2 separate regions of the Homo sapiens genome follow, and region 1 is linked to region 2. The links come from fine-mapping of genetic effects on gene expression. Tissue or cell type: whole blood. Region 2 holds a variant in brackets; the other region holds the start of a gene. All regions are shown on one strand. Distances are from middle to middle.

Region 1 (2,500 bases), 130 kb before region 2:
TCTCCTGTCTCAGCCTCCTGTGTAGCTGGGACTACAGGCACCCACCATCATGCCTGGCTAATTTTTTTGTATTTTTGTAGAGACAGGGTTTTGCCATGTTGACCAGGCTGGTCTCAAACTCATGACCTCTGGTGATCTGCCTGCCTTGGCCTCCCAAAGTGCTGGGATTATAGGCGTGAGCCACAGCGCCTGGCCCTAATATTGTATATTTCAAAATATGGTAGCTAGAAGTGGGGATTTTGAATGTTCTCACCCCAAAGAAGCCATAAATGTATGAGGTGATGGATATGCTAAGTACCTTGATTTGATTTTTTTACACAACGTACACAGGTACCAAAACATCACATGGTACCCCATATTTAGGTACAATTATAGGTTGCCGAAAAAGTAATTGCGGTTTTTGCTATACTTTTATATGCAAAAACCGTATAACTTTTGCACCAACCTAATATTACATGTCAGTTAAAAACAATTTTTTAAGTGGCTCTCTTTTTAAGTGGGTATTTGGGAAAAAAAAAATGTGGGAGCCAAGAAGGCCTTGTCTACTTCGTTTCCTGCTGTATCCACAGGGCCTGGCATGTAGTAGGTGTTCAGCAAACATTGGTTGATGAATGCATGATGACCTATCTGTGCAAACCTCTAGGCTCAAGAGGTGTGTGTGTGTGTGTAAGTATTTTAGGGTGCATGTGTGGCAATGAAACTGTATATGACCTCCCATCTTCTGAGTGACCCCTCCTCCCTCACGCTGTCAGGAGCTTTCTGGGGAATATTTCATTTATTCCCTACAACGCTCTGTGAGGCAGGTTTCCTTCGTATCTATATGACAGACGAGGAAACTGAGGCTCCGCGATCATCTAAGTTATATAAAATATGTTCAGAAGTGAAAACAGCATTAATAGGCAGAAAAGGACCTCCCCCTTCTACCGCTTACCCACCGCTTACCCAGACCCTCCCCTTCCCCGCGCTGGGTCTCCCAGGATTCTTCTTTACTTTCTTTTCTATAAAATACAGACGGGGGGAGGGGGGGCGTCTCACTGTGTTACCCAGGCTGGTCTCGAACTCTTGGCCTGAAATTATCCTTTCACCTTAGCCTCCCAAAGTGCTGCGATCAGAGGCAGGAGCCACCGCATCCAGCCTTCTCCCGGGACTCTTCAAGAGTCGCTGCGCCGGGGCCTAGGCCGAGGGTGCACAGCGCGTAGAAAGCGCCTGGGAGAGCGGTGTCCCCCGCGAGCTACCACAAGTTTATCCCTAGGCGCGGAAGCTACCACGGCCTGGGCGAGAGCCGGGAAATTCCCAGCGGGCGGCTTGCCCCGGGGGAGGCCGGCGAAGCGGTCTAGGCTGGTGCTGGCGGAGCCGATTCACGGACCCGGGGTTGTTTACTGGTCCGGGGAGTGGACGCGGCTGCCCACGAACCGGTCGCGGCTGGGGCGGCGGCGGCGAGCAAAGGGTTAAGGGGGCGGCCCCGGCGGCGGGGGCGGAGCCGGGATCTCGGCCGCACCTGGCGCCCCAGGCTCCCAGCCCCGACGCCTCCTGCAGCGCCTGGAGCCACACAGGGATCCGGAGCCTGGGGGAAAAGCGGCGCGGGAGCCGGCACCCACCGCTGGAGGGGCGGCGACGGCGGCCGTAGCGACCTCGGGAGGCAAGCGGAGCCGCCATGGCCGAGTTCCCGTCGAAAGTTAGCACGCGGACCAGCAGTCCTGCGCAGGGCGCCGAAGCCTCGGTGTCGGCGCTGCGCCCGGACCTGGGCTTCGTGCGCTCCCGCCTCGGGGCGCTCATGCTGCTGCAGCTGGTGAGAGCACGCGCGGGCCCACGGGGTTGGCCGGGGGCTCCCGGTCCGGCCAGGATGGGTGAGGGACTCCGGCGCTGCGTTCATTTTTCGCGAACCTTGCGCTCCCCACCCGGGCTCACACTGTCACCGACGCGCTGCGCGTACCCCTAGGGCGCTTCCCGCACGGACGCCCCCAAGATCGCCCTGCATCCCTCTCACCACGACACTACCCCGTGGCCGTCGCTGCGAGCGTGAGCACCCTGCACCGTGTACAGAGTGCCCACTGCCCGTGCCCCATCGTGCCCCCTCCAAGGTGGTTACCAGCGGCCACAGAAGCCCCCACCGGAGCCACAGTCACTGCGCACAACCCGCCAACCCTTCCCAGCCCTCCCTTCCCTCCTCTCTCTTTTTCACCCCTCTTTCTGCCCGGACAGTGCCCCCAGCCCTCTAGGGAACCCAGTCTGAGGCAAAGTCCACTCTCTGACCACCTTCTGTCCCGCTCCCAGCGGCTCCGGGTGGCCGCACCCATGAACATTCCTCATCTAATCTAGAGGGCACATCCGACTCCCCAACACGCACACTCAGGCACTACCCTGTGGGCGCCCGCGCGGGAGCCGGGCTCTTCTAGCTTTCTCTGGGTGACCCGCCAGGTTTCAGCCGGTTTAGCCAGCCCCACGGGACCGAGATATCGCTGGAGGGAGGGGTTTGTGGGTAGCCAGGGGCAAGACTCCT
Region 2 (2,500 bases):
ATAACACTACCAATTTCCTAGGGAGATAGAGATAACCTAGATTAGGTGCTAGGTGTGCGGTATCAGACACACAGTGTTTAGTAAATGGTGGCCACCCTCAGTGCTGTTACCATCAGCCCTCCCTTTTTTCTGGGTGGCATAGCCAGAGCTTCCATTATTGGTGATTTATGCAGGTTTATCCATTCCACTGGCATTCCTCAGTTGCAGCTAGAACACTGGCATGGGTGAAGGGTCAGATCTGGTCGTCAAAGCTCCAACCACCAGCTTTTGCTGTATGCTTCCCTTTTGGCTAAATGTTAATTGCTTAGGCACACCCGGTTCCTTGGCGCGGTTGTCCTAGCCGTGGGTATATGGCTCAGCTGTCATCTTAGGCCCCTCCAGAAAAACAGCTCCATGGCAGTGCAGATTATCTGGACTTGGGTATTTTCTTGGTTTTCTGGCATGCCCAACCCACTTAGGCGTCACAGGATGGAATGCAAGTTCTGCTCAGTGGGAGGCTAGGATCTTGGCAACACTTTTGTAGTCACAGGTTGAACACAGAAACCAGTCACACATTTGTGCTTTAGTGACACTGGCAAGGGCTGACATTTTGCTCCCTTACCTGCTGGAGCAGCGGTTCGGAGAGAGAGGGAGCCTCACAGTGGTAACGGCAGAACATGGCCCCAGCATCAGAGCTTTGCAGAGGGGAGAGGCAGAAAAACAGAGGGACAGCCATTCACCTGTGCTTTATACTGCAAGCTGGTCTTCCATTACTATTTTAGTAATAGTCATGTACATCATTGCTTGTGTTGGTTTCTTTCATTCAGTGTATACTGAGAGCTTGCTATGTATATGCCAGGGTGTTAGGGGCATTTGTGCGTTATTTTTGTGGACTCTAGTGTCTTTCATTCTGGGGGAAAAAAGTCCTGTGAAGCAGCCCTTCTCTATATTTTACAGGAAATCAGAATTCCTAGGAGCTCAATGGCTTGTCTGAGGTTGCATAGCTAAGTGACAGAACCAGAATTTTCATTTGAACCAGAATTTTCATTTGAGCCTTTAAGTCTGGCTTTCTGTGGTTTCAGTGAAACTTCTAAACAAATGCCAGTGCCCAGGCCTCCGT[G/TG]GAAGGGATTCAAGGGTAAAGGAGTCTTTCTGGCTGGATTTCCAAGTTCACTTTTCAGCCTGCTATCCATGTGCAGGAACCAAGTAGCAGCACCAAAGCTTGGATTTTTACAAAAGTGATTTGGAGCCAGGCGCCGTGACTCATGTCTGTAATCCTAGCACTTTGGGAGGCCGAGGCAGGTGGATCACTTGAGGTCAGGAGTTCGAGAACAGCCTGACCAACATGGTGAAATTCCATCTCTACTAAAAATACAAAAATTAGTCAGGCAAGGTGGCGTGCGCCTGTAGTTCCAACTACTTGGGAGGCTGAGGCAGGAGAATCACTTGAACCCAGGAGGCGGAGGCTAAGTGAGCTGAGATTGTGCCACTGCACTCCAGCCTGGGTGACAGAGTGAGACTCTGTCTCAAAAATAAGAAAATAAAAAGTGATTTGGTTGGCCTTGTCAAGAGTTTAGACAAACTCTTTAGACAAGAGTTTAGACAAGTTTGTGAACTGAAGCCAGCTAGGAATAAAGGGCCTGCTTGACTTACCCACCGTTAGGCAGAGAAGGGGCAGACAGCAGAGATGGCTGGATCTGCCCCCACATGAAGCCTGGATGTGGGGACCACGGCCACCACACCTGAGGAAGTGATCTGAGAGTGGGAGCATGTGGGACAGACCCCCACTGCAAGGCCAGGGCTTCGCCTTCACGTGGCCCAGTGGACGGCAGTCTCCCTAGTTTCACCAAGCTCGTAAGCCGCTCCCACGGGAAGGTGTAAGGGAGGAGTGGGATTCCACCCATGTTGCTGGCCTGGGGGCCAGTGCACTGGAGTTTTCCAAAGGACAGTCTGCAAATCAGAGCTCTGTGCAGTCCTGCGGCCCTCTTGAGAGAAGTGTCCCTAACAGATCCTTCAGCTGACTCTTGGTGTCCACAGAATCAGCAGCGGCACCAGAAGCTTAGGATGAAGGTATCCCTTACTTGCTCCCACCAGAAAAACTCTGGCTGGAGCTTACCAGGCACTAAGAGGTGGGAATCTACCTGCTGCGGTGCCCAATCCTAGCAGGCCCTAGTAAGAATTACTGGCCAGAAGAGTAGATGGGGACAAATGACTTTCCAATTTCAGTGGCACAGAGTGACAAATTCATTAGCAGCTTGAGCAGAAGAACCCCATCCAGAGCCAAGGGAAGGCATTCAATGCAGTGGAGCAAGTGTGGGCCATGAGGTAGCCAGACTTGGGTATGAGGCCTGGCTCTGCCTCTAGTAGACTTGATTCGCTTCTCTGCTTGTCTCCTCATCTCTGAAATGGTCACCGTCAGGAGCTATTGGAAGGGTTCACCAAGATAGTGCTTGCAGCCTGGGCAACATGGCGAAACTCCATGTCTACAAAAATTAGCTGGGCGTGGGGGTGCATGCCTGTGTTC

Evidence for each region. PIP is the estimated chance that this variant, and not a neighbour inherited with it, causes the effect.
Region 1: it holds the start of PLLP, and the variant in region 2 is fine-mapped to the expression of PLLP in whole blood (TOPMed, PIP above 0.99).

The regions. Positions count from the first base shown.
Region 1 is chr16:57,283,695-57,286,194 of GRCh38, reverse strand. It overlaps PLLP (plasmolipin), which reads left to right and starts at 1,523. Exons shown (of 4, transcript NM_015993.3): 1 at 1,523-1,789. The coding sequence starts at 1,655. RefSeq lists a silencer at 1,330-1,739 and an enhancer at 1,784-2,445.
Region 2 is chr16:57,148,921-57,151,420 of GRCh38, reverse strand. No RefSeq gene overlaps it. Among named protein-coding and RNA genes, the nearest start is that of PSME3IP1, 36 kb to the left of the region's middle. RefSeq lists an enhancer at 699-1,488. The variant G/TG (reference allele first, on the strand shown) is at 1,100.